Homo sapiens: one gene and its partners. The protein of the gene in region 7 purifies or fractionates together with the protein of the main gene of each other region. This does not show direct contact. Each region holds a gene or a part of one and is shown on either strand. Other genes may lie near its edges. The genes, in order: ITM2B, RIC8B, RAMP3, CCT6B, NUDCD1, WRAP73 and TUBAL3.

Region 1 (4,042 bases), on a different chromosome or scaffold from region 7:
AACATAATGTAGGCAAGACCTCATCGCCACAGAAAATAAAAACATAAATATATATATTTTTTTAATTTAAAAATTTGGCTGGGCGCAGTGGCTTACGCCTGTAATCCCAGCACTTTGAGAGGTCGAGGCGAGTGGATCACAAGGTCAGGGATTCGAGACCAGCCTGGCCAATATGATGAAACCTCATCTCTACTAAAAATACAAAAATTAGCCGGGTGTAGTGGCGGGCACCTGTAGTCCCAGCTACTTGGGAGGCTGAGGCAGGAGAATTGCTTGAACCTGGGAGGCAGAGGTTGCAGTGAGCCAAGATCACGCCAGTGCACTCCAGCCTGGGCGACAGAGAGACTCCGTCTCAAAAAAAAAAAAAAATTAAAATTTAAAAATTACATTAAAATGAATCAATGAGAAGCAGCTACCATTTCCATTTTGTGTCTCTACTATCCAAACCCATTCGACCCCAAAACATGCAGATTTTTTAAAAAAGCAGTCCCTTTCTCAGAGTGTTGTCTCCAAGAGGCCTTTTACCTGTGAATCAGTCTGAATTTCAATATACTCTTTGCCATTTTTTTCCTCCATTGTGATTCAGCACTATCACATTTAAGGGATCCCTACCTAAGAGGTAATTTGAACTTCGGGTATTAAAATAAAGTAATAGATTTTGATTCTGTCTACTGAAGGCACAAGGCCCAGCTCACTTTCTTAACATGGCAACATCACTAGCACCAAATCTGAGGTGTACAGAACTTGCATTCCTGTGGCCATTCCCACTCCCAGATGAAATTCTGAAACTACAATTAAAGAAAAAAAAAAGGGAAAAAAGCCAAGTTTGGTTTTGTTTGTTATCAGTTGCCCCTGAAGTCTATATAACAGAGCCAATTTTTAAAAAGGAGGCTACATAGAACCATGTTAAATTTATTGAACAAAGTTCATTCAGTAAATATTTAGTGAGTTCCTAATACGTGCCAGGTGCTTTACTAGGTGCTGAGGATGTAACATGAACAAAAATAATAAAGTCTCTGTTTTTAGGGAATTTACATTTTATTTGTAGAGACAGACAATAAACAAATACAAACATAAATACATGTCAGATGGTGATAAGTACTATAGAGAAAAATAAGGTAGTGTGGTCATGGCCAGGAAGGCCCCTAAGAGGGCAGAATGGAAAAGTCTAAGAGCAGAGGCATAGATAAGGAGCAATGCTCATAGCCACAGGGATACCTGGGCATAAGCCTTCTTGACCAATGACCATATTGCTCACTGGGCAGCAATATGATAGGGTTAAAGGAAGGGAAGCAGTGCCCACGGTTCTGTGCTTCTCTGCCCTAGTGGACATCTCATTCCACATGGGCTATGGAAATGACCACCTTCTGGAAAAGCCTCTGTGAGAAAAGAAGGGAAGCCAAGGGAAAGCTTGTCTCCAATTACTCTCTCATTTATTCTTTGCATTGTTTATTGGCTGTTTGAGGAATCTTGAGCCAAGTCCTAGTCATTATTTTTGCCCATCCTCGAACTTGAAACAGTCTTCATGGTCTGGCCTGCATTGTGCTAATCTGTATTGTTAAGAATACACTACAGACAGACATTGCCAGCATTGAGGGTGGAGGTGAGACTCACTTTAGAAAAGGTGATCAGGCAATACCTAATGAAGTGACATTCCAGCAGACTTAACTGAAGGAAGGCAGTGAGCCTTGGGATACATGTGAGGGAAGGAGGGTGTGGAATTCCTGGCCCAGAAACAGCAAGTGCAAAGGCTCTGAAGCAGGATTGCCCTTGGTACGTTCAAAGGAAAGTGAGGCAGCTGTGTGGCTGTAGAGGAGTGAGAAAGGGGGAGAGTTACAGGAGGTGATGTAAGAAGAGCTTTGGAGGCCTAGATTACCTACAGGTAGGGCATTGTTCGACTTTTATTCTGAATAAAATGTTGGGATTTGAGCAGGGGAGTGACATGATGTGGCTTAGATTTAGAAAAGATCGCTCTAGCTACTCTGTTTAGAAGAGGCTCTAGGGGTCAAGTATGGAAGCAGGAAGATCAGTTGTGAGGCCATTGCACCAATCCAAGCAAGAGATGATAGCAGCTTTGACTACTATGTTAGCAGTAGAGACAGTGAGAAGCGGCTGAATTCTGGATAATCCGTATCTTGAAGGTAGAGCACACCAGATTGGCTGATGGATTTGATGTGAGGTTTATGAAAAAGAGAGGAATCTAGAATGACTTCCTATTTTTAGCCTGTGCAACTGGAAAAAAAAAGGAGCTGAGATGAGGAAACCATGGGAGGAAAATCAAGTTTGCCTTTGAACATGTTGTATCTGATAATGCCTATTGGACAAGCAAAATGGGAATTTGGAAAAGACAGCAACGTATGCCTTAAGGGGAATTTATATGAGAAGGTACCCAAGTTATACTAGTTTACTTGAAGGGATACATTACATATTTGGTTAGACCTTCCATTCTAAAACAATGAGAAACTGAAATTTATAAATGGTTCTTGGTGTTTGTTATGACTGTAAACCTAATAATACTTGGACTCCTGCATTGTCATGTATTTATTATGTATATTTTACCAATCTACCCTCAAAAAGATATGTTTACAATAAAGATGATTTTGCAATGAAATCATTAAACAAACACTTTTTAAAACATGAGCTATCTACAAAGACTTGTACATGCATGTTCATAGCAACTTTATTCATACTTCCCAACTTGGAAACAATGAAAATACCTACACAGAAAAAAATGATAAATTGTGGTATACACAAAAAATGGAATACTGGCAGGGCACAGTGCCTCACACTTGTAATCCTAGCACTTTGGGAGGCCGAGGAGGGTGGATTGCTTTGAGCCCAGGAGTTCGAGACCAGCCTGGACAACATGGCAAAACCCCATCTGTACTAAAAAAAATAACAAAAACAAACTAGGTATGGTGGCATACGCCTGTAGAGTCTTAGCTACTCGGGAGGCTGAGGTTAGAGGATGGCTTGAGCCTGGGAGACAGAAATTGCAGTGAGCCGAGATGATGCCACTGCACTCCAGCCTGAGTTGACAGAGCCAGACTCTGTCTCAAAAAAAAAAAAATAAAAAATAAATTTAAAAAGCACACACACACACACAAAACCAAAAGAAATGGACTACTACACAGCAACTGAAAAGAAAGAACTGCTGAGTCATGCAACAACATGGACAAATGTCAAAACGTTATACTGAGTTTTAAAAGCCAAACAAAAAGATTATATATGTACGATTCCATTCAAATAAAGTTCAAGAATAGCCAAAAACTGAACTATGGTCATAGAAATGAAAAAGTAGTTTTAGCAGAGGGAAGGAATATTTGCCGGAAAGGAGCACAATGGTATTTTCTGGGGCAATGAAAATGTTTTGATGATTGTTAACATGGACAAAGAAAAGTGTCAAAACTCACTGAGTTGAACACTTAAGATATATGCATTTCGTTGCATGTAAACTATCTATAAAACTCACAACAAAATATGAGCAAACTGAAGGGTTACTTCAAGCCCTACCGAAAGGGTGATATACAGAAAAACCTAGGCTGAAAGTAATTAATCTAAGCACCGAGTTTGGCTCTGAGTTTCCCAGCAACCAAGGCAAAAGGGAAGCAAATGAATTCTTTAGATGTACTACCTAATATTAACATGTATCCTATGTGAAAAAAATTTTCCTAACACTAAATTTTAAAATACTTAGATAAGAAGTACTAGATATGACATAATGCTTTTAACAGCACTTTACAAAAGCTGAAGAAACATTTCTGGCTCATTTTTATTTCTATCAATCCTCAACAAAAGTCAAGAGAATAATATCATGCCATGGTTATACAAAGACATTTCTATGGGGAGCTAAAGGAAGGCACTCATAATTTTTTAGAGTGTCAGCTAGCTGCAGGGCTAGAATCTAGGGACTCATTCCAGAGACATGAAGGATTCTCAAATTTCACAGGCTCATCTTCCTGGATGCCTCAGCAGTGTTTCTGACAGAACTTGGGTTATCAGATAATTAGGGGTTAAATAAAGTGTAATGTTCCCTGGAGTT
Region 2 (4,216 bases), on a different chromosome or scaffold from region 7:
TATTTATTACCTATCATCCATCTCATAAATATACTGATGTGTAGCCACTGAATTTTAAACCCTTTTTTGTCAGGAATCTGAACAGTGTGAGCTACTATTTTGGGTATAATTTAAATAACAGGGGGCTCTAACAATGGCAAACCAACAGTCTCTGGAATTTAAGGTCTCAAATGGAGAACTTAAAAACCCCAAAACAAACAGCGTAAGAAAAATAACCATAGAAGGTACCAAATAAGCATAGAAACATAACATTTTAAATACTTCCAAATATTTGGTTTCAATGCATAAATGGAGCATGTGGGCTTTCCACATCTTTTCTTGCCAAGTCCCAGGAAAAACTGACCATACTACAGTCATCTAGAACAGCTGTTAGAGCTGATATTCAAATATTTAGTTTCAAAATACAGATCTATTTGCGCTTTAAAACTCAGATGTCTGCATATTCCCCCTATAACAATGCACTGAGATAATCCCTTTAAAGTAGGCTGCTGGCAAAAACAGATCTTTACTCATGGGTGAGAAGTGTTTCAAATGTTAGCCTAAATCTTAAAGTCAATTGTCAAAAAAGACAATTTGCTCTGGAACCAAAAATCTCTTTCTTTTTACAGGAGGGGGTGAATTTCAACAGTTATTTAAAGCTAAAAAGAGAATAAATGTGACATGTTATGCTTCTAGAAGGAGGGAAAAAAGCTTATGTCTACTTCACTTAATTTGTTGACTTCCTTAAACTAAGTTTCCTATTTAGCATATTGTTCTTGTGGGTACTCAAATGTAAACTATCAAATCTGCGTCACTTTGGGTTGCTGAAGGGTCCAAGCCACAGTGAAGAAAGATCTTTGTTTAGAAATAAGTCAAGTGGTTTAAAATAACCTTTCCCACACTCTGGTATAATCAGCTTGTTTTCTAGAACTTATATATGAGCACAGATATCTAGTTGTGGTCCTATGCCTCTGATAGTTATCTAACACTACAGAGAAACCTCCCAGAGACTGGGACAACAGGCATACACAGAGCATCTTCTACTCTCCTGAGCAGACACCAATTCTGATTGATCAACTTCAATTGGCTTGATCTGTCTTAACTTTTCTTTAAGATGGCAGCCACTGAAAATGCCTATAGCTTTATCAACTACATTGTTTTGTTTCCCCTCAAATCTTATAATTTAAACCTTATTCCTGAAAGCGGCACTCTTAAAAAGAGAGAATAATGCAACTCAGAAAACTATATTTGGCATCTTACAAAATAGTAGTCCATTTTTACACCTATTCTGATAGGTGTTATCACACAAATGGAAAGAATAAGACTTACAATGGTTAAGAAGTATATCCTGGGTAATACAATTGCTTAATGGGAGAAGTGGGAACTTTTTCCATTTCCCAACTTGTATTCTTCTCTTGCAGGAAACTCTAGGGATGTCCCAGACCAATTAAATTCCAGGTAGACAAAAATAGCCTTCTCTACCTTACCTCTTTATGCACCTTCCAACTGTCTACCGTCACATTGAAGAGAGCTTTGAGGGCCTCAATGGCACAGTCTGTCTCCTGAGGTGAGAGAGGAGGTCCATTATGGTCTATGGCCGATTCATACTCATCGGTCCACTTGATGCTAAAGGCACTTTCCAAGATCTGCGTTAGCAGCGGTAGTCCCTGGAGCTCATAGCGCAATTGTGACCTGATGTCGGTGTGCAAAAGTGACAGAAGGAAGAGCAAGCGCAAGTCAAAGCACTTAATGTCATTGATAAATTTCCGGTCCTTGCACTTTCTCAGGAGGTTACAGAGCTTTGCAGCAAGATTAAGTTCCAGGCTGAGCTGCTGTGCCATCTGACTGTTGAACACTATATTACACAGACATTTTAATGACTCCACAATAACTGGGAACTCTGATACTTTCTCCAAAGAATCATCTAACTCATTTAGCTTGGCTAGTCGCAGCAGTATCTGCATATTTTCCTTAGTTGTCACAGGAACTAAAACCTTTTTGTCTCTGGAGAGAATGCGGAGTACTTCCAGGCAGGACACTTGACATGTTGTTGGGATGTCCTTTATAAGGACTTTAAATATGCCTTCACAGAGTTTCTGAAAAACAAGAACGAGTATGCAAAAATCATTATTTGGCTCAAATGACTTAACACAGAATGTTTCTCTGCCAATGTACTTAACAACAGTTAAAAATCCAGAGAGAAAAGGTTTTTATTATTTTTTAAATCACGGAATGTTAGAAACTGAAATATAAGGTCACCATCAGGATGGAAGACAATCAGTTTGAATCATAGCTGTTCCCTTCCCAGAAATAAAGATTAACGTCTCAAGAATTGGTTCATATTTGTCCAGAGTACAGGCTCTTGCAAAAAGACTTAAAGAAGTATGCATTTCTGCTGAGTTTTAGTCATGCTATTGCTTCTGAATTTATAGCTCTTTAGCAGCAGTCCCATGTTTCAGAAACCCTTGAACCCCCTTTAGCTAAGATCTAATAATATTTAATCATCAAACAACCCCAGAGAAGAACTTTTGCTGACAAACTGATAAAAAATTATTCAAGTGTTAGGTTCCAAATAGAGTTGAATTAGCATCTATTATGCCTTGAGCCAATTGCAAAAAGGTGACCCCTCCTGGTATACAAACTACAGAAAAAAGTTCCCACTGGGTGGGCAAATTATTAAAAAGCACACATAGCTTGGAAAGCTCAGACTGTGGACAGAATTTTAGCTTTCTTTTGTTATCTTGCTGTAGGGCACAGACTGTACAAATATATGTAGTAGTTCTGGTTCCAAACCTTGCTATCAATATCTCAAAAACAATTCTAGAATGAACCCAAATATCTTATATTTCCTAAAAAGGATTTTTTTATACCATTGTCAAATTTAAGGATCACTGACCACTCCCTCAAAATTCAATGTCAGTTTTCTTCTCTACAAACTGCAGGTCTGGGTCTCTCAAGCTTACCCTTATATGTGAGGCAAGCAGGTATAACTACTCTATCACCGAACATTTCTGTACTCCCTTACATCTTATAAAAACAACAACTACTATTACCAATATAAGATTTTACAAAATTTCTATTAATCTATCATCAGACTTAATTCTTCAATAAAAAGAGGCTGCCTGTGGGTCCCATTGTGATCTTGTCAGGAAACCTAGGCTATGTGCACATAGTCATCAGCTACAAAAATGCCTATTTTAAATGTAGTCATCCCTTGGTATCTGTGTGGGATTGATTCCAGAACCCTCTGCAGATAATAAAATCCACAGATACTCAAGTCTCTTATATAAAATGGTATAGAAGGCTGGACGCAGTGGCTCACGCCTGTAATCCCAGCACTTCAAGAGGCTGAGGAAGGCGGAACATGAGGTCAGGAGATCAAGACCATCCTGGCTAACGTGGTGGAACCCCGTCTCTACTAAAAATACAAAAAATTAGCTGGGCATGGTGGCACGTGCCTGTAATCTCAGCTACTCGGGAGGCTGAGGCAGGAGAATCACTTGAACCAGGGAGTCGGAGGTTGCAGTGAGCCAAGATCATGCCACTGCACTCCAGGCTGGCAACAGAGCGAGACTCTGTCTCAAAAAAAAAAAAAAAAAAAAAAGGCATAGTATTTGCATATAACCTATGCACTTCTTACTGTATACTTGAAGACATCACTAGATTATTTATAATATCTAATACAATGTAAATGCTACGTAAATCGTTTTATTATTTAAGGAATAATGACAGAAAAGTTTGTACATGTTCTACACAACTATCCTTTTTTTCCTTGAGTATTTTCAACCTACAATTGATTAAATTCATAGATGCAGACTGCACGATACAGAGGGATGACTGTATTGCGTTCTCTAAATAGATGTGGAAAAGAACTTTATCTGATAAGACAAAAAAAAATTTCATAACATTGTCAATTCTATCCCTGCCATACCTGATATTTAGAAAGGACTTTCTCTTAATATTTTACTATCATTGTTAAAGCACTTTTTTTGAATGTAGTTTGGGGATAGTGGAAAGTATAATGTGCCCATTAATTAAAAGTATACAGAACAGGGAAAATTTTCTCCATATTTAGATCTTTCATATTCAAGACAAAAAAATACATTCTACATACTGCTTCACATGTGGTATATTCCTGGGGGTGGAGTCAGATCACCTTTGTTTCCACACAATTTTATTCAAGAAGGAAATATCTACCATCCTCCTTAAGTTGAGAAACATGTAATAAGGTATTATA
Region 3 (4,216 bases), on a different chromosome or scaffold from region 7:
GTAGCTGGGACCACAGGCATGTGCCACCACACTCAGCTAATTTTTTTTTTGTTATTTGTAGAGACAAGATCTCATATTACCCAGGCTAGGCTCCAGTGATCCTCTCGCCTTGGCCTCCCAAAGTGCTGGAATTACAGGCATGAGCCACCGCACCCAGCAGATAATTGGAGAATACTCCTCTCTCAATAATTTACAGAACAAGTAGATAAAAATCAGGAAGCTATTAGAAAACGTGAACAGAGGAGGAACAGAGGTGTCCAGGGCACAGGCAGGAGCACAGTGGAGCTGGGTATACTGTGTGTGGAAGGGTGGGGTACACACCATTGTGGGTGTAAAGGAAAGAAGAAGTGACTTTGGAAAGGTAGACCCAGGGCAAGGTTGGAGCAGGATGTACAGGTCTTCAGAGTTTATTTAAAGTCTAATAGAAAGGCAGAAGTGGGTTTTCAGCCACAGTACTCTCCCACTTAACCCAAATAGGCCCTCTGAACCTTCACATCATGGAATCCTGGGCAAGCATCAGCCAGGACTGAAGCTGGCGTCCCTTCAAGAGAAGCCATACCATCTCTGCAGGAATGGAGGCCCGTGTCCTTCTGAAGCTTGACCGTGCCACCCTCCAGATGCCCCACTGGCACGGAGCCAGAAGACAGAGACCTCATCCTGTTTAGTTCCTGATTTGCTGTGTGACTCCAAGCAGGGCCCTTCACCTTTCTGGTCCTTTGTCTCCCCATCTGTAAAAAAGAGTGATTCTGATTCTGTGTGTTTCCATTGGTTAATAATTGTGCACCTACAAAATCTCTGTCAAGGTTAGCTTCCATCGGGCCCCAACTTCCTATTCCCACCACTGCTGACCCCAGCCTCCAGCTTGTCCCACCCATGAGCTGCTGCTCCACGACCCTCTGGCTGCTGGCAGCACCTGCCCCTCTTCCTCCACAATCAGACTGTCCCCCATTACCACAGCCTCCTTCCTGGACACCAGCAGCTCCCACTTCTGTGTATCCCAAGCTGCTGACCCCAGGTTCTCTTGTAGCACAGCTCTAGACCCTGAAGTGCTTTGAAGGAACCAAAAAGTAATAAGAGACTCAAAAGTGAAGCCATTCTTCTATAAGGCTGGTAGGGACCACCATTCATGAACCCACCCAGAAAGCCCTGAGGCTTGGGGGCTCTATCCCTAGTTCCTCTGGGCACTGTCATCTTTCAGGGCAGCCACCAGAGATAGGACAGACCCAGCAGAGTCAACTGCACAATAGGCTCACCCAGGCCACAGCCCAGGCCTATTGCATGGGAGCCTCTGGGGTGTGAAACCAATAATTCATGTTTGTTAAAACCTCCAAGTGATTCAGACATGGGGTCAAGGCTGAGACTGAGAGATGGAAAGCAATGTGTCTCCACTCAGATGTGCAGGCCATCACCTGAAGACCTCAAGCAATGTAGATTCCAGTCCAGCAGGCTTGGAGGCCAAAGCACTCATCTCTGCAAGCTCCAGGCAAGCCCCTTCTGCAGGTCCGAGGACCACACTCCAAGGAGTAAGGGCATGGGGGATGGAAGAGCAGCAAGCAGGAGCCAGAAGGCTCTAGGTGCTCACCTCGGCTCTGCCCCTGACCCTGACACTCACTCACTTGCCCCTCTGAGCCTCAATGTCCCCATTCAGAAACAGAACCAGTGGCACCTACCTGGCAGACCCTTGCCCCATTTCTCTTTCCCTTCAGCCAGGCTCTCCACCCCCCTCAGTACTGACCAGTGCTCCCTGAATGCCCTGTTCTAAGTGTGGCCCAACCCGCCAAGCCCTACAACAGCCAGACAGGGCAGGTACTTAAAGACTGAAACCCTGTGGCAGGGTGGGTCAGCTGCTTCCTCACTTAGACAAGGCAGGGGAGTCAAGGTTCAAAGCCAGGCCACCTGCCCACAGAGCTGTCTCCAGGTGGCATGTCACCATTGCCTCACACTGACACCCTCACTCCAATTCCCACCCTTGGTCTGCCAAGCAGGGCTGCATCCAAGGCTCACCTCCTTGCCCTGAGGGCTCCTGGCTGGAGTGGCCCCACTTAGCCCTGGTCCCCGATCCCCACCTTCCTTTCCTTCTCTCCCAGTGGGCACTTCCAAGCTCCATGTCAAGCCTGGGCTCTGCAACAGATTCTGGAGTACAGGTCGGCATTGATCCTGGGAAGGGCCTGAAAAACATCATGCCTCCTTCACCACCTCCCTCAGTTTAGAGATGGGACGATGGAGGCCCAAAAGAAAGCGACTTTCCCAAGGCCTCCCTCTGCCACCCTGCTCAACTGCACCTGCCTGCAGGTGAAAAGACAGCCCTGGCATAAGTGACCAAGGGGTGCAAGCCCCAGGGACCACGTGGAGTCACACGAGGACTAAGGCGGCCTGTGCACCTTCACCCTAAAGCTGCCCCTGCCTTGGACTCTGAAGGTTCGCCTAGCTGCTCTCCACATCCAGCTCCTGTCCTCACCCCTGGGTCTGGCGTCACTCCCTAACAGATTCTCTCAGCACCCTTGGGTGGGTCTCCTGAGCTCCGCCCACCATCCCAATGGGCACGAGCCAGGCTAGCCCCACCCTGTCCCTCCTGGCCAGTGCCCACACCTGCAGCCTGGTCCACCTGGACCCCTAGGTCTGAATCTGAACCCCTAGACCTGGACCACTTGGCCTGGTCCCCCCTCAGCCTACTCTGACTGTCACCTATCAGGCCACCGAGACCCAGCCCAGTTCTTCTTCCTCCTCTGCCTCCCCCTCCTTCCCCTTCTTCCTCTCTTCCTCCTTCCCCTGTCCTTCTTTACCCTCCTCCCCCTCCCCTGTTTCCTCTCCTCTCCTTCCTTCCTCCTCTTCTTGGAAGTCAGAATGAATCTGAACCACTGCCTTCTCCTCCCCAGCCCTTTCCTGGAGGTATTTGCCGCAGCCAGCCCAAGTCATGGCTGTTCCTACAGCCCACCTCCCTACACAGGGCCTGTGTCTGCCACATTTTCACATTAACTATGATGCTCTGAAACACAGCTCAGGGACAAGGTCCTGATAAGTATTCATTACCCTCAGGCAACTATTATTCTCCCTGAGCCCCTGATCTCCCTCACTGAGCCAGGCAAAGACAGCATCAATTCCCCACCACCCCCAGTGCCAGGGCATTGCCCAGCCCCTCCCCCACGGCTCTACAAATACCCACCCAGGTCGCACAGCTATCTAAAAAGAGAAGGAGGGGTCCCTGACAACATGCCCCTCCCTGAATCTCTGCATGCCCCAAATCTCTACATACTCCATAATCTTCACATGCCCCATCGCAAGGACCTGGCTCAGGCAGATTGTAAATGTGCCTTTGAGGACCACATGCCATCCTCAGGCAGGTGTTCTGGGATAACTCCTCTACCCACGGAGGTGCTATGAGGATGCCTGTGACAGCACCAGCCCTGGGCCTGCACAAGGCAGGCACCCTGAGAAACCAAGTGCCCTCCCCAGGGAGCTCATTTCTAGTGCACATGAGGCTTGAGGGGCTCCCAGCAAAACCTGACAACCCACCCAATGTTAGAACAATGGTGTAAAGACAGATTCCTGGCAACACCACAAAAGAGGGCCATTGCCAATCAAGCTACTGGCTGCATTAGTAAAGGTCGCAGGAACTGAATCAAAATAGAAATCCATTTTGGTTGGTTTCATTGGGAAACAAAGAACATGCCGGCCTGTGTTTCTTTTGTCTCAGGGACTTCCAGACGCCACTGAGAGATGATAAACAGCCAAACAGATGCATTTCCGCCAGAAAGGGCTTTTGTGGCTAGTCATTTGGAAATGAAACACAGGCGCTCTCCCCCTCCTTGACAGAAAGAGCATCGACGAGACTGGCAAGTGGCTGCCATGGGCCACGGTCAGTCGACCTTGGGAGGCTGTGGATTCTGGGCGGTTCTGCCCCTGGTCTCTGTGGTTGGGCAACTTCCTCTCTAACCTCCAGATTTCTGTTTCCTTATGAAGAATAGGTAAGAGCATGGAGGTCAGATAACCTCCAAGGAACCTCCAGTGCCAAAAATCTATGGGCCTCTTCTTGGCCAATCACCACCTTCAAGTCTTTTTTTTTTTTTTTTTTTTTTTTTTTTTTTTTTTTTTTTTGAGGCAGAGTCTCGCTTTGTCACCAGGCTGGAGTGCAATAGCATGATCTCGGCTCACTGCAATCTCCGCCTTCCAGGTTCAAGCGATTCCTCTGCCTCAGCCTCCTGAGTAGCTGAGACTA
Region 4 (4,216 bases), on a different chromosome or scaffold from region 7:
AAACATGTTTTAAACCAGTATTTCTCAAACCTTTTGGTCTCAGCACCACTTTACTCTCTTAAAAATGATTAAGCACCCAAAAAGCTTTTGTTTATGTAAGCTCTATCTATAATATTTGTATTATAAAAACTGAGAAATTTTTAAAATATTTATTAATTCATTTAAATAATAAGCCCATTTTATGTTAATACACATAACATTTTAAATGAAAATTTACTACACTTTTGAAAACAAAAATATATATAGTGAGCTAGCAGTGGCATTACTTTACATTTTTGCAAATCTCTTCAATGTTTATCTTCATAGAAAACAAATGGATTCTCATATCTCATTCAGTATTCAATTTGGAATGATATGTTATTTTGGTTCAAGTTTATGAAGAAAATCTGGCCCCACACAGATAAATATTGTAAAGGGAGTAATATTTTAATAGGCTTTTCAGATAATTATGGAAATTCTTCTTTGATACTATACCAAAACTCAGTAAGTAATAGTTTCTCAAAGGTTAGTTTCACTATGGAACCATAGCAATGAACTTTTCATACTATCTCACATTAAAACACATTGCTGTAACTTGCACACTGAATGGATTATTTATCCATGTATGATTTTATAAAAATCATGCATTTTTAGTCATGTAGATAGCATCAGTTCACTGAGTTAGGCAAAGTTTCCACATGTTGACACATTTCATATATAAAATGTTGTGTTATACATGTAGAAACTGTGTCATGTTATGCATGTGGAAACTTTGCCTATCTCAGTGAACAAAAACTCACATTTGTTAATATCACTACTATTATCAGGAAAGTCTTTTAAGTATTGGAAAGCTGTCAAGTTCACATGGCAGATACAAGTTTTCTGAAATTCTAATTTTTTAAAAAAGTTCAAATGTTATTGACAACAAATACTGTCAGTTGTTTTAAGTCACAGAATTTCCTCATTCATTTTTGAGAGAAATCTACCAAATACCCATATCTAGATAACCACAGTTTGTCTGTCAGTCATTCTTCCAGGTAAAAGTGGCATTCCATGAAAAAGTGGCTAGTTTACCTTGCAATTTAAACAATTACACAAGTGCTCTCCTTCAAGACAACCATCATATTTTGGTATGCAATAGAAGAGCTTTGAAGTTCCCAGCCCCATAATCCCAACACTTTGGGAGGCCAAGCCAAGAGGATCACTTGAGACCAGCCTGCACAACATGGCAATACCCAGCCTCTACGAAAAAACTTAAAAATTAGCCAGGCATGGTGATGCACACCTGTAGTCCTGGCTACTTGGGAAGCTGAGGTGGAAAGATCACTTGGGCCCAGGAGGTCAACGCTGTAGTGAGCTATGATGGTGCCACCCAAGCACTCCAGCTTGGATGACAGAACAAGACCCTGTCTCAAAAGAAAAAAAAAAAACAGTGCTTTGTGCATACTTCATATTTTGTCACACATAATAATAAAAGGATGCATATTTCAGAATCAAAATTTAATAAATTAATAAGTTTTACCACTTCATCAAGACACTCTTAAATGATACTGCCTTTTTTTTTTTTCACTGTAAGTTTGCAGTGGTATAGCAATAAAGAATGCGATGACTACTAGTATAGTTTGGTGCTACTTCTTTGACTTGTACTAAGGTGCCAGCAGTTTTACAGATTGCTTTTGCAGCATCATTGCAAATGTCAACACAATGTAAAAGGTGTAATTATTATTATGAAAATAGTTTTTGACCTCACAGACTCTCTGAAAAAGTCTTAGGGATTCTTAGGGGTCCACAGACCACACTTCAAGAAATGCTTAAGAACATTTACAAATAACTAAAATCTAAACTTTCTTTCTCACCTTTTGATTAATGACGACAAATCCTTTATTTGACTGAGCACAGACTTTGTCCTTCAGGTCTATTATTTTTTGTACTCTATCTTCAATAAATTTTCTTTCAGCTTTTACCAATTTCTCTTTCTCTTCTGCAGTCTTATAAAAGAAACCAGAGTTCACCTCTCTAAAAGATTAATAAAAACCAGCTAGTAAAGGCAGGAGGAAAAAGGAAAAAAGATAGAAGTAGTCTACACCAAACATCTGGAAGGAAAAAGAGATTTTAAAACACCTTTAGAAAAAAAAATTCAAAAGTTATAAAGAGAAAGTAACACGCACGTTTTTTCATATTCCAGTGAAACGTTGCAAATAAGGATAAATGCATCTTCTACTCGCTTCTTCATATCTGGATGACGGGCACCATGATCCAAAACTAATCCTTGGATCAACCTATTAAAAATATTAATGTTTCTTACTTTGAATATATACTCTAAAATTTGGTATAAAATTATCATTGTACTATTAAAGTTACATCAATACTTCCAGGACACACATTGTTTCCTTGTACCAATTTTAACAGTTTTTGGTGTTTTTGTTTTTTGTTTTCAGAGATGGGGGTCTTGCTATGATGTCCAGGCTGGCCACGAACTCCTGGGCTCAAGCAATCCTCCTGCCTCAGCCTCCCAAGTAGCTGGGACTAAAGGAGTGCACCACCTCACCCACCTCCTTGCATTGACTTTAAACCTAACATATAATTAGTAAAATTAGGAAAGAGAATCTACTTTAACACAGTGTGACTATGAAGTCACAATAAAAAGTCAAGCCAGAATTATTTTCTAAGTTATGTGATTCAAAAATATGACACAGCTTATCAAGTAATGAAAGGTACGTATACAATGAGTTTCTTAGGAACATTTATTCAAAATGATTATATGGAACAACTAAAAATTGTTAACCTAAATGTCCAACAATAGGGTATTATTCAGCAAATAATGACCCAACTATTTGATGGTTATAAAAAGTATGTAATAACATGGAAAAATATTTATAGGGCTAGCTGATAAGCATAGAATGACAAATTGCATATGAAGCATGCCTATAACTGTTCTTTTTAACAACAGACAAGGAAGGGGAACATCACACACCGGGGCCTGTTGTGGGGTGGGGGAAGCGGGGAGGGATAGCATTAGGAGATATACCTAATGTTAAATGATGAGTTAATGGGTGCAGCACACCAACATGGCACAAGTATACATATGTAACAAACCTGCACGTTGTGCACATGTACTCTAAAACTTAAAGTATAATAAAAAATATAAATAAATAAATAAATTTAAAAAAAAAAACAACTTGGCATTAAAAAGAAAAAAAATGGGAGGGACCTAAGAGTAGGGGTTATGCCTGGGTAGTAGGAATATAGATGATTTGGAAAGGAGGTGTTTCTTCCTGTTTTCCAAATAATCTTTCAAGAGTCAATATTTTTATAACTTTATAAAATTCATTTACAAAACATTCAGGGGATGGAATTTCTACTTATGAATCCTTTATAACTAATTTTTGTTATATATTTTTAAACTATTTTAGTTCAACATAATTATAAGGAAGTTTTCAAAATTTTACTTTAACTAGATTACTCCACCTCTTAACAGAATGTAAACATATCTAGAAACAATAACACTATGTTCAACATTCCTCACTCTTCAAGCCTCCTTCACTTTCCTCCCTCCCTACTGTCAGCAAATGACATTGTTTCTTTGAGAAAATAGAAACATTGTCCCATTACTACCTCTACCAATCCACTTGCACTTGACCCTGAACCTCCTACTACTATGAATGAGCTGTCCATGTTCCTCTCTATGGGTAGCCTCTCTACTTGTGTACTGGATTCCATTTCCCTCTCTGTTCTTGCACTGTCCCCTAGTCCCCTATATCAATTCTCACCTAAAGAACCATCCTTACCAGCATACAAACTTGCAGTAACAATTCCTATCATTAATACAAAAAATCCTTCTCCCTCAGCCCCATTCCCATATTCCCTTCTAGCTACTGCCCCATTTCTCTGTTCTCCTTCATAACTACACTTCTCTCAGTTACCATTCTCTCTTGAGCCACCTTCAATCTGACTTTTATTTCCACCTCTTTATTCAATCAGCTCTCATTAAAGCCACTAAAAAAGTAAATGTTTTCCAGCCAGGCGCGGCGGCTCACGCCTGTAATCCCAGCACTTTGGGAGGCCGAGGCAGGCGGATCATGAGGTCAGGAGATCGAGACCATCCTGGCTAACACGGTGAAACCCCATCTCTACTAAAAATACAAAAAATTAGTCGGGCCTGGTGGCAGGCACCTGTAGTCCCAGCTACTTGGGAGGCTGAGGCAGGAGAATGGCGTAAGCCCAGAAGGCAGAGCTT
Region 5 (4,216 bases), on a different chromosome or scaffold from region 7:
ACATTACAGTATAAATAATTTTTGCACAGTCTTCCTCATCTCTATAATTCAAGATGGCAATAAACCAGACATCTTTCATATGCTGATATCATTGTTAGAAAACGAACACATAATTTCAAGTTCTGATGTACTGCTGTATTTGTTCACATTCTTAACATGATCTTACACGTCATGAGAGTGGGAATGTATTCAACCTCATGATTAAGTATTGTGTTGTCACTGTAATTATCACAATGAATTACATTATAAAGAAAAAATAACTATACTATATATGATACATATATCCTTGCAAAATTGTAAACTCACCTCAAAAATTTTAGGGATAAGTAGATTCTTAGCAAATAAATTGTAACATAATTTTTGTCCTACCAGCATTGGTCAGTTGATTCTCCTAAAGAATACATGTAGAGAGAGAGAGCGCACAATACATACGCACACATAAACAGATACAGGCAAACCCTCTATACAGTATGACCACACATATATGTATGTATTTACATAGTGTAAGAAATAAATATTAGAACTTAGGCCATATTCAAACATCACTCAGATCAGTAGTATCTGATATGTATCTTTTATATTAGGAAAAGCAAAATATTGTTTGAAAAGCATGGCATAATCTTCACATAACATATTTTTGGACCCTTGGAAAGTCACACTACTATTCCAACTACTTACCAGTTCTTCAGAGGTCAAATGCATCAAACGTTCAGCTATTGCAGCACACTGGGCTGAATCTCTTATAAGTTCCCCTTGTTTATCTCCAATTACTAGCTCTGGCCAGGTCAGTCCTTCATTCTTCTTAATCAAGGAAATCTCCAAGCTAGAAGTTTAAATGGGAAAAGTAATGTTACATTAAGCAATTATACAAATTATACAATCAGTAGCAAACATTGTTTGTTTCTATCTTCTATAGAAAGAACCCTCCGGTGTCCAGAGGATGGTTTACCAAAAATCTTGCTCATTTAAGTTTTGCATGTGATGGAAAACCTATAATCCAATGGCAAATAGTCCAGATTTAATAAAGAAAGAAAGTACCACTGGAAATGGTACATCAAATGGCCTGAAGAGAGGATTGCCTGGAAAGAGTCAAGTCATCCAGAAAGTACTGGTATGCAGTATGTTCCTGAACTTAATAGAAATACAAGAAGCATGGATCTATAAGACATCTGGGGAATGGTCGGGGGTGTGGGCATGTAAGCAAAGAGTAAAAGGGCTGTAATTAAAGGATAATTCTTTGTGTCTGGAATCAACAATTAACTTTATTTTCACAAACTAAGAGCCATAATATATGATTATTAACCTGAAGATCAAGCAGGTTAAATCAACGCAAATCTTAATTTTAAAATACAGATGTTAAATAACTGAAAAGTAGAAATAAGGAAAAAAATTAACTTTGGTAATACAGGGAAAAAAGATGTTAATGTGTTCTCTATTAACTTATTTAAAATCTAATTCTGTACATGTAAACAACTAAACAATTCCAGATGCACTTAAAATGGTCTGTCAGGGAACCCTGAGATCAAGGACTGATGCAGCAGGAAAGGGAAAGAGAGCAGAGTCAAGGCAGACTACGGACATAGGAGAAGAAGTAACTTGTCCCATGTTCCTCTGGAATAGGAAGGAAAACCCAAGTAAGATGCTTTGGGAGCACCCACTGCTATAACAGAAAAGGGGAGTGGTAATAGCTATTCCACAACAAAGCAACCTTTTCCATGTGCCATCTTTCGTACACATGTACCATATTAGCTCATGCCCTGGAACACAACTGCAAGAATACAATAATAACTATTATAGTTATCAAATAGGACACGCAAACTTACCAGCTGTTCTTTTTCAAGACTGTTACAATCACTACCTTATGAATTACAGCATTTAACATTTTTCTGAAACTACCTATTTTAAGAGACTATACAAAATAATAATATGAGTACTTATAATTAGCACTGAAAATTACTCCCACAATAAAAGCCCAGATTTAGTTACATCTTTTCTTTTTTTGAGACAGAGTCTCACTCTCTTGCCCAGGCTGCAGTGCAATGGCACAATCTCTCTTACTGCAACCTCCAACTCCCGGGTTCAAGTGACTCTCGTGCCTCAGCCTCCCAAGTAAGTAGCTGGGATTACAGGCCACGCCATCATGCCCACCTGGCTAATATTTGTATTTTTAGTAGAGACAGGGTTTTGTCATGTTGGCCAGGCTGATCTTAAACTCCTGGCCTCAAGTGATCTGCCTGCCTTGGTCTCCCAAAGTGCTAGGATTATAGGTGTGAGCCACCGTGCCCAGCCCCCAGACTGAGTTACATTTTCTAAGGATAAAGGTAATCTTGATAATAATGATGATGATAATAATAGTAATAATGACCATAGCTTATACTTACCTATATGTCAGGTGCTGTCTTAAGCACTTTACATGTTTTAACTCATTGGTTACAACAACCAAATAAAGTACTGTAAATATTATTATCATCACCATTTTACAAGTAAGAAAAAAAAGTACTGAGGTTAAGCAACTTGCCAAGGTCACAAGCTATTTAAACAGTCTGGCTCTAAGTCCATGTTCTTCACTACTGCACTATTCTGCCTCTCTGAAAAAATATATGTAAATAACTATTAAAGAACACTTACCCAGTGAACTGTTCTTAGTTGCTACCTAAAGAGGTCTGAAAGAGTTGATACAATCTGTTATAATTTCCAAACCATCATTAATTTGCACAGTTAATCAGTGCACCCTTCTTCTAAGACTGCATTTGTACGTTTTAAAACTAGTATTGTATGCTACCATCCAAGCAAAAAAAAAACCCCAAACAATGCCAAATATAATAAACTACAGATTAGTTAAAAAAATCTTTCCAAAGTGAGACAACAGTAACTTTTGAAAACGAGAGGTACGAATAATTTACTCAAGTACAGAAAATCGTGTTTTTAAAACAACAATACCACCTACGCTACATTGTAGTTATCTTTTTTAACACAAAATAATAATCAAACACCTCAAATTTAATGGAAAAATAATACTGATCTATGTTGATGCATTGAATGCTGAAACTACTTACATGAAGTCAAGCTATTCCCCCAGACCTTTGCTGGGTTACTGCTTGATGACTTACATTTAACAATATGTTCTAGTTGGCTTGCCAATTTGTAAATGTGACTCACATACACATAAACATAATTAAATGGAGTATGTGGAGATACAAAATACTTTTAAAAGAAACTTTCAAGCAATTATTTTTGATATATTAAAAAGTGTAACAAAATCACCAAATGTCTTCATTAATAAAATGTAAGATACCTTTTACAACTTCAAACTTTCTATGAGCTAGATATATTTTTCTTGGATGCTCATGATTTAGACTTGTATCAGACTCACATGGATCATATACTACTAATTAAGAACTATACTTTGTGTAAAAACATCTAAGTTATCCTCTATGTAACATCAACTTAAAGCACAAGATTTAGGTTGTATTTTAAATCAACCATTTCTCATTTCTGACCAAATTTGACTATTTAAAAAATTAACTGCCTAACTCTATTCATTAATCCATCACTGAATTTAATAATTACTAAGACTTGATTTAAAATAAAAGAAAGTAATTTTAGTAATCCAAATAATTGGGGAAAAAACTGCCTGGAATAATAGATTTGCAAAATGGCACAGTTGTGGGGGGCAAAGGATTATAATTTTAAAAGACACTTAACTTTATCTTTTTTTAAAAAGACACAGTTTTGCTCCTTTAATTGAGGTGTAATTTATAAATAAAATTCACAGGTTTTAAGTGTAGAATTTACTGATTTTGACAAATGCATACACCTTTGTAACCCAATGAGGATACTGAATTATTTCCACCATACAGGCAGTTCCCTTGGCCTTTCTTCAGTCAATCTCCCTACACCCTAGAGATAACAAGTGTTCTGATTTGTATCACCATAGATTAGTTTTGCCAGTTCTAGAACTCCATATGTGGAATCATACAGTATGATTTTTTGTCTTTGGCTTCTTTCACTCCACATGTTTTTAATTCATTCATATTGCTTTTTATTTATTGCTAGCACTTTATTACAGAGTAACATTCCATTGTATGAATATACCACACGTACTTATCCATTCACCTTTTCAGTAACACTAGAGATATTTCTGGCTTTTATAAGTATGCCTGCTATGAATATATGTTTGCAAATTTGTTTTGGCTTTGTTTTGTTTTTTAACATA
Region 6 (4,216 bases), on a different chromosome or scaffold from region 7:
GTTGTGTGTTCAGGAGACTTGGTGAAAAGGACGCGTGCCCAGGTGTTTTAAAAGTGAATATGCTGTCACATTTGAGCCCTTTTCCTTGTCCTGTGTGATGGTGTTTGCGCATGTGTGTGCCACGTCGGGAGTTGGGGGGACGTGGAAGTTCACCTTGACTGAGGGCCTGCATTAGGCAGGGCGCTCTGCCAGGTGCCCAGGCACAGAGGGCACTGCCCCCACAGCAGACATATGAACACGATTCCAGCACAATCCATCATTAAGGTAGAGCAACCTCTGGAATGCTGTCAGAGTGCAGAACCCGGGATCCAGGCAGTGCTCTGGAAGGGACTTGTCTGAGCTGGGTCTAAAGGAGTGAGCCTGGCCAGGCAAGGAAAGGTGAGGGGGAGAGTGTGCACATGAGTGCAGGTGCGGGGAGACCAAGCCACCTTCGGGGGCTGGCCAGGCAAGGAAAGGTGAGGGGGAGAGTGTGCACACGAGTGCAGGCGCGGGGAGACCAAGCCGCCCTCGGGGGCTGGCCAGGCAAGGAAAGGTGAGGGGGAGAGTGTGCACACGAGTGCAGGCGCGGGGAGACCAAGCCGCCCTTGGGGGCTGGCCAGGCACTGACGCTGGCATCTGTGGCGGTGCAGCCCCAGCAGCAGCTCTACAGGGATTTCATGCATTTCCAGGATAGAGCTGTTGAGATTTTGTCAATTTCTATATAAGGAAATTAAGTGCGTTAAGAACATCAGTCATAAATGCAATTATTTATTTACGAAAATATTTTCCAAATTTAATGTTTCCCCCCCTTCCTTTGGAAGCATTTTGATACGGACACCCAGGATCTCACAGGGATTGAGTGGGCCCCAAACGGCTGTGTGCTGGCAGTGTGGGACACCTGCTTGGAGGTATGAAGATGACCAGGTGACATGTTTGCTTTCGAGAGCTTTTCCCGGAATTTCATGCTTTCTGAATGCTGCAATATAGTTTGCTTTATCTTATTTCAGATAACAAGTTGAGCTTTGTTTTAAAAGACAGGGTCTTGCTCTGTCACCCAGGCTGGAGTGCAGTGGTGTGATCACGGCCCACTGCAGCCTCGACCTCCTGGACTCAAGTGATCCTCCTACCTCAGCCTCCCAAGTAGCTGGGACCACAAGCATGCACCACCACGCCCGGCTAATTTTTGTATTCTTTGTAGAGATGGGGTTTCACCGTGTTGCCCAGACTGCTCTTGAACTTCTGTGTTCAAGTGATCTGCCAGCTTCGGCCTCCCAAAGTGCTGGGATTACAGGCGTGAGCCACAGTGCCCGGCCGAGTTGAACTTTTATCAGCGAGCCATTAGGTTGACCTCCCAATTTCCCCTTTTTCCTCATGCTCTCACTGCCTCTCCGTGACTATCTCAGTACTAGCTGGCAGTTCCAGCTTTTCCACGGCCACGCGGACAGTCCTGCCAGCTTTGTGCTATCTGCACCAATGTCACTCTGCAGCACCCGCGTCTGTGGTGTGTTCCTGGCGACGGGGGTGTATTCATTATTAACTGAAATGTCTCATCTGCAGTACAAGATTCTGCTGTACTCATTGGATGGCCGGTTGTTGTCCACGTACAGCGCTTACGAGTGGTCCCTGGGCATCAAGTCTGTGGCCTGGAGCCCCAGCAGTCAGTTCCTGGCAGTTGGGAGCTATGATGGAAAGGTGGGAACCAGTGCAGGGCACTCAGGAAGTCCGACCGCCCAGCGGGCCGGGCCCTGCCTCACCTGTGCATGGTTTCCTTCCTCAGGTGCGCATCCTTAATCACGTGACTTGGAAAATGATCACGGAGTTTGGGCATCCTGCAGCCATTAATGATCCCAAGATAGTAAGTCTGGAACACGTGTTTCTGCCTGAGCAGGCTGTTGGGGAGGGCGGTGGGAAACTGCTCCTTCACTTTGCTTTCTTGATTGTGGTTTATTATTTAACCGGGCACTTCCATCACCGTAAACTTGCTACTGTGACATTTCACGCGTCTGGCCCTGCCCTGGCCTTTGTTCTTCCTCCTCCACGCTGCCCAAAGGGTCTGAAGTGGGCCTTGCCCTGGCCTGTCCTCTGCCGCTGCCACCCCAGTCCAGTTTTCTCCTTTGTGGTCTGTCTGGATGCAGATCCCTGTGCTGTACAGAGTGGCCAGGGTCTCCTGCCCCCAAACACTGGGCATCTGCTGTCGTGCCAGGCACTGTGCTCTGGGCCGCAGCCAGAGAAGAAGAGACAGACCCCTGCACTTGCAGAGTGCGGCTGGAGAGACAGGGAAGGGGCTGGAGAGCTGGGTGTCTCCACGGGGTGGCAGGGAGTGGCCACCAGCGAGGGATCGCAGGCACAGATGCTGCACCAGTGATCAGGGACTCGGGGAGGGAGCGTTCCAGGCCAAGGGAACAGGAAATGCAAAGGCCCCGAGGAGTGGGCCACGCATCCATGTGTGCAGCGGGCACTGCGCTGGGAGCCAGAGACAAATGCTGCCCTCCTGGTGTTGACCTGTAACCGACAGAGCTGAGTGAAAGGCGGCTTGGATTCGATGAAGAGGCCAGTGAGTGGCTGGGGCTGCGCATGCCAGATCAGCCACTGCCGGGGATGCATCCTGGAGGGGTGTTTAAGTGAAGACCAGGAGGAGGAGCTGCGCGGTGTCTGGGCAGAAAGGGTGTTTCAGGCAGAGGGGCCTCCTGACGTGGCCAGTGGCTTGTGTGGCTGGAGGCCAGGGTGTCTGGACAGGTGAGCCCGAGCAGGGCTGGCCACACAGGTCCTGAAGGTTTGCCTGTGATTCCTGCATTCTCCAAATCCCTTCGCCACACAGCAGCAGAGCATGCTTTAAAGGCATGAACCAGGCCAGGTGACTCCCTTACCTGGGGCTCTTCAGGGGCGTAGGGGCTGCCCGCCTTCCACTGAGCCTGGGCCGCTGTCCTTTGCTTGCCAGGCTCTCGGGCACAGATGCCCCCACCTCGGGTCTGTGTCTGCTGCTCCCGGGGCCTCTGCTGTGTTGGTGCAAGTGTTCTCTGTATCCTCTTATCACGGAGGGAAGGCTGAGCCCACTCCCTTGCTGGATGATGGTGGCTGCAGTGGTCTCCCGTCTGTAATCACAGGGCACACATTTGCTGCCTGTGTCTCAAAGGGTGGGCTCCTCAGCAGGACACGAGAGAGGGTGGCTGGGTGATCTCAGCTCTCGGGACTGCGGGGTTCGTGCTTCCGTCTCTCCCGGTGGCAGCAGGACCAGCTGTCATGGCAGGCACACCTGTTGACCATGCGCTGTCATGGGCATTTGCCACGTCCATCCTTGGCTTCCGGGTCCCTGTCCTGAGCCGGGCGTGGCCACCTTGTGTCTTTCAGGTGGTGTATAAGGAGGCCGAGAAGAGCCCACAGCTGGGACTGGGCTGCCTCTCCTTCCCGCCGCCCCGGGCCGGGGCCGGCCCTCTCCCGAGCTCAGAGAGTAAATGTAAGTAGCACATGTGATGTCATTTGTTTTCCTTTTTTAATGCAAGATTCCTCGTTGTCCAGATAAACTTCGGATGTTCCTTATGTTTAAAAAAAAAAACTTTTTTTCCCTTCCATGCTTCCAGCCAGTGTGCCCCTCAGCCTGTTGGCTGGAGGTTGACTAGGGTCTGAATTGCGCAGTGGGCCGTGAAGGTGCGGCTTCTGTTACTGAATATGAGCCCTGGAGACCCGGATCTGACAGCGGGAGCTCCGAGGGGATGTTTTTCCGGAGCTCCGAGAATGATGTTTTTCAAAGAAACACTTTTCCGTGGGTGGCGCTCAGAGTGGGTCTGGAACCCGGCGGTGCTCCCGAGCGCTGTCTCCGGCTTGAGGCCCGGTTCTGATGCAGCCTCTTGACTCTGGGCATTTCCTATGTGTCTGTTTCCTCATCGCTGAAATGGGCATAGTAAAAGCACCCATCCCACAGGGGCATGAGGGCATCTGAAGGTTGCAGGTAGAGGAAGCGGTGCCCCAAGTGCCGACGGGCCCACCCCGGGGCTCGGTGTGTGCTCAGGATGGGGGTCAGGACAGGTGCAGCCTGGCACACAGGAGGCGCTCCCCAGGAGCCCAGGGGCGTCCTTGTTCCACAGCCCCTGCTTCTGCTGTGATGATGGTTCTTCCACAGCCGGAAAGTCTAAGGGTACTGACGCTGAGGTGGAAGGGATTGTGAACTCAGATGCTGGTAGTCGACAGAAAAGTGCTGAGGAGTTGGAGCTGCTGAGATTGCAGCTAGGACCTGTCCATG
Region 7 (4,216 bases):
ATTTGTTTCAGCACCACAGTCAATCAAACCACACCAATATTAAGAACAGCGATTGCTATCACCTCAGATTTCTTAGAATTTAGCTTTTACTTTCCTTCTCATTTTTTTTCTTTCCTTCTCTTAAAAACGTAGATCATTGTCTGTTTAACAGAATAGTTGTTTGCCTTAAAAAAAAGATGATTTAAAGTGGGATGGGGGAATATGAAGGTGGAAGAAATAGTAAAGTTTAGACAAGAAAATAAAATCACTACCCAGATATTACTAAACTTAATATCTTGATGCATTTTCTTTTAGATTTTTATGCCTATTTTTGAACATATTGGACATCATACTCTATATGCAATCATGCATCTTATGTGCTTTTTACTTAATATGTTATCATAAGCATTTCCCATGTCATAAATCTTTTTTTTTTGGGAAAACGTTTAAGGGTTGCATAACATGTCATTGTGTTGATGTAACATCCTTTAAATGCTCAACAATATATAAATGGTTAGATTAAATAGATTGGTTTTTGGTTTTCATGCTTATGAATTGTGATGCTTGTGAATGCCATCAGCCTACATCCTTGCATTTTAGAGTCTTTCTTTTGTAATTTGTTTGTTTATATCATTTGCCTAGCTAGTGGATGTCTTAAGTGTTTTTTTTTAGAAAGTTGATGTATATAAAATCAATTTTTATCTCTATATGTTTGTTATAAAACTTTTACATTTTGGAACTGTTAAATCTATTGCATTTTGCCTTGTAAAATTTCCCACTAGTTTTAAGTTTAGTATATCCATCCTTATTCAGAGTGCATATGAATGGTAAAGATAACATTTTAAATTTATCTGCGATGAGTTTTAGTACTTGACAAGGCTATATATTGATTTTAGTTTTATTTCTTTCCAATAACTAGCTAATTTTATTTCTAGACAAGCCCACTTGATATATATAACTACACGCACACACACACACACACACACACATCTCACCTATATTGAAAGAATAAAGTAAAATTAGTTGTATTTTGATTTGCATTGTGTGTGTTTGTCTTAATTCAATTCTTAGCCAAGTACAGAGTAGGTGCTTAATTTATGTTGTTAAAATAAACTTTTTAATGGAATTTAAATCCCAGGTTTAATTTTCCCTGAAGCTTAGCTGTACCCTGGGTCTTGGTTTCCATGAAACGCTTTTGATTATCCTTATAACACATTCCTCCGTGGCCTTAAGCTAGCTTGGTTTCTGTCATTTGTAACCAGAAGGGCTGAGTAACAGATCTCCTGTTTTCTAAACACCTGCTCAGTTCCAACTCACCATGACTTATTTTAGAGGGAGTGCCTTTCCATCCACATCGGTCAAGCTGGCATCCAGATTGGGGACGCCTGCTGGGAACTCTATTGCCTGGAACATGGAATCCAGCCAAATGGCGTTGTTCTTGACACTCAACAGGATCAGCTGGAAAATGCAAAAATGGAGCACACAAATGCATCTTTCGATACCTTCTTCTGTGAGACAAGAGCTGGGAAGCATGTGCCTAGAGCACTCTTCGTGGACTTGGAGCCAACTGTTATAGGTACAATAAATGTTCCATTCTAGCATACTTAACTGGAGCCACACTCAAACAAATCAAGTGGATGGGATTAGCAGATTATACAGGTCTATCTGAATGGAATCACATGGACCTTTCCCAAATGTAGAGGCTTACTCAGTGGCCATGGGTGATTAACATGACAAACACACCCAAAGGGAAGACCAGATTAGTGTTTTTGAATTTAAATTTATTTATTTATTTATTTTGAGATGAGTCACTCAGGCAGGAGTGCAGTAGCGTGATCTGGGCTCACTGCAACCTCCGTCTCCTGGGTTCAAGCAATTCTCCTGCCTCAGCCTCTGAGTAGCTGGGATTACAGGCACACACCATCATGCCTGGTTAATTTTTGTATTTTTAGTAGAGATGGAGTTTCACTATGTTGGCCAGACTGGTCTTGAACTCCCGACCTCAAGTGACCCACCTGCCTTAGTCTCCCAAAGTGCTGGGATTACAGGCGTGAGCCACCACACTTGGCCTAGGTTAGCCTTCTTTACCTGTGTGATGAAATGAATTAAGACCTGCTAATTGATCCACACATATATCATAATAGAACACTAAGTCTTTTCCTGGGTTTGAGAGCCATTTGCTAGAAGGCACTGGCAAAGAATCAAAAAGTTTTTCGATAGCTGCTTAAAAAGAGTAGAATATTTGAAAAGAATCCTAAAGGAAAAAGAGGCCAAATATATACCCTAGTTATGGGAAAAACAGTACAATTTTATGATTACTAACAATAGACTTGTAGTATGTCATGCAAAAACTCTTGAAATGGAGCTAGAAAAATAAAGGAGAGAGAAGGGGCTCTTACTGACTTAAGAGAAAAGCTAGACAGTGGGGTAGATTTGGGTTTGATGTTGTGCATCCCATTATTTGTTGGCGTGTAATAAACTTCCCCTACATTTAGTGGTTTAAGGCAATAATGATTGCTGGTTTGTTCATGAATCTACAGTTTGGGTGGGGCTCAGAGGTGACAGCTCGCCTGTGCTCCATGTGGTACCAGCTTGGAAGGCTCAAGTGGGAACTGGGGCATCCACTTTGAAAGTCACTCATTTACATCGCTGCCCCTTGGTGCTGGCTGTTGACTGAGAGAGTGGGAGGGGTGGAGAAAAGGAGAGGCTGACGAATTCAAGGTCATGATAAGAAGGAATTGAATACAACCCCATAAACACTTCAGCTGGGTGATAGAAGTACAAAGATGAATAAATGTTGATTTTTGCCTTCGACGTGAAGATGCCTGTCTTGGTCAACTCGGACTGCTGTATTGGAACACCATGGACCCGGTGGCTTAGACAACAGTTGTTGATTTCTCACGATTCTGGAGGCTGGAAGTCTGAGACCAGGGTGCCTGGTGGTTGGCTTCTGGTGAAGGCTCTCTTCCCAGCTTGCAGATGGCTGCCTTCTCACTGTATTCTCATATGGCAGAGAAATAGTCTGTGTCTCTTCTTATAAGGGCCCTAATCCCATAATGAAGTCTCTACCCTTATGACCTAATTACTCACAAAGACTCACCTCCAGATACCATCACATCAGGGATTAGGGATTCAACGCATGAATTGTGGGGGGACACAGCCATTTAGTCCACAGCAGCTATTGTTTACTAGTTGGGGAACTGCACAGGTATTTTCCTCTAATTCTTTCAACACTCTGTCAGGAGACATTATTATCATCCTCAATTTATAGATGAGGAACTTTATAAATCTTGGGGAAGTCAAGGAACTTGCTTAAGATCACTGAGTTATTAGAGTAGAGCTGGGTTTGGTCCTAGGTTTGCCTTCTTATTAAATCTATTGTCTTTTAACAGGAAAGTAGCCTAATCTAGTGAATAAGAAAAAATAAATAGTTATAACAACACTGTTGAAATTGAGCCATATAAAATTGCCAGTATATGACTATTTTTTAATCTAAAAAAGTTAATTGTATTGTATATGATACAACTTAATAGACATTTCTACAACAAGTGTGTCCAATAATTTGACCTCCCTGGGACACATTGGAAGAAGAAGAATTATCTTGGGCCACACATAAAATATACTCACACTAACAACAGCTGATGAACCAAAAAAAAATATTGCAAAACGATCTCATAATGTTTTAAGAACGTTTACCAATTTGCGTGGGAATGCATTCAAAGCCATCCTGGGCTGCGGGATGGACAAGCTTGCTCTGCAAGGCAGAAGGAATGAATAACCGGGGAGTCATCCAATATGTTTGTTTGTTTGTTTGTTTTTTAGAGCGAGAGAGACTGGGTCTTGTTCTGTCACCCAGGCTGGAGTGCAGTGGCGTAATCATAGCTCAGTGAACTCCTGGGCTCAAGCAGTCTTCCCACTTTGGGGTCCTGAGTAGCTTGGACTACAGGCACATGTCACTACATGTGGATAAGTTTTTTTTTTTTTTTTTTTTTTTTTTTTGAGACAGAGTTTTGCTCTTTTTGCCCAGGCTGGAGTTCAATGGCACTATCGCTGCTCACTGCAACCTGTGCCTCCCGGGTTCAAGCAATTCCCCTGCCTCAGCCTCCTGGGTAGCTGGGATTACAGGCACATGTCACCATGCCCTGCTAATTTTGTATTTTTAGTAGAGACAGGGTTTCACCACGTTGGCCAGGCTGGTCTTGAACTCCTGACCTCCAGTAATCCACCTGCCTCGGCC

Evidence for each region.
Region 1: the proteins of TUBAL3 (region 7) and ITM2B purify together in Homo sapiens (co-immunoprecipitation; one large-scale study listed by IntAct). This does not show direct contact.
Region 2: the proteins of TUBAL3 (region 7) and RIC8B purify together in Homo sapiens (affinity purification with mass spectrometry, with the first as the bait; one large-scale study listed by BioGRID). This does not show direct contact.
Region 3: the proteins of TUBAL3 (region 7) and RAMP3 purify together in Homo sapiens (co-immunoprecipitation; one large-scale study listed by IntAct). This does not show direct contact.
Region 4: the proteins of TUBAL3 (region 7) and CCT6B purify together in Homo sapiens (affinity purification with mass spectrometry; 2 studies listed by BioGRID and IntAct, with this or other methods). This does not show direct contact.
Region 5: the proteins of TUBAL3 (region 7) and NUDCD1 purify together in Homo sapiens (co-immunoprecipitation; one large-scale study listed by IntAct). This does not show direct contact.
Region 6: the proteins of TUBAL3 (region 7) and WRAP73 purify together in Homo sapiens (affinity purification with mass spectrometry; one large-scale study listed by BioGRID and IntAct). This does not show direct contact.

The regions. Positions count from the first base shown.
Region 1 is NC_000013.11:48,267,335-48,271,376, reverse strand, and holds the end of ITM2B (integral membrane protein 2B), read right to left. Parts: 3' UTR 1,020-4,042; downstream 1-1,019. UniProt on the Homo sapiens protein: Plays a regulatory role in the processing of the amyloid-beta A4 precursor protein (APP) and acts as an inhibitor of the amyloid-beta peptide aggregation and fibrils deposition. Plays a role in the induction of neurite outgrowth.
Region 2 is NC_000012.12:106,812,555-106,816,770, reverse strand, and holds part of RIC8B (chaperone Ric-8B), read right to left. Parts: intron 2,076-4,216; coding exon 1,467-2,075; intron 1-1,466.
Region 3 is NC_000007.14:45,160,210-45,164,425, reverse strand, and holds part of RAMP3 (receptor activity-modifying protein 3 precursor), read right to left. Parts: intron 2,169-4,216; coding exon of another isoform or gene 2,005-2,168; intron 729-2,004; coding exon of another isoform or gene 560-728; intron 1-559. UniProt on the Homo sapiens protein: Accessory protein that interacts with and modulates the function of G-protein coupled receptors including calcitonin gene-related peptide type 1 receptor (CALCRL), calcitonin receptor (CALCR) and G-protein coupled estrogen receptor 1 (GPER1).
Region 4 is NC_000017.11:34,940,649-34,944,864, forward strand, and holds part of CCT6B (T-complex protein 1 subunit zeta-2), read right to left. Parts: intron 2,259-4,216; coding exon 2,148-2,258; intron 1,996-2,147; coding exon 1,836-1,995; intron 1-1,835. UniProt on the Homo sapiens protein: Component of the chaperonin-containing T-complex (TRiC), a molecular chaperone complex that assists the folding of proteins upon ATP hydrolysis.
Region 5 is NC_000008.11:109,274,674-109,278,889, forward strand, and holds part of NUDCD1 (nudC domain-containing protein 1), read right to left. Parts: intron 824-4,216; coding exon 679-823; intron 1-678.
Region 6 is NC_000001.11:3,632,615-3,636,830, reverse strand, and holds part of WRAP73 (WD repeat-containing protein WRAP73), read left to right. Parts: intron 1-800; coding exon 801-887; intron 888-1,536; coding exon 1,537-1,671; intron 1,672-1,756; coding exon 1,757-1,834; intron 1,835-3,327; coding exon 3,328-3,433; intron 3,434-4,216.
Region 7 is NC_000010.11:5,398,183-5,402,398, reverse strand, and holds part of TUBAL3 (tubulin alpha chain-like 3), read left to right. Parts: intron 1-1,311; coding exon 1,312-1,555; intron 1,556-4,216. UniProt on the Homo sapiens protein: Tubulin is the major constituent of microtubules, a cylinder consisting of laterally associated linear protofilaments composed of alpha- and beta-tubulin heterodimers.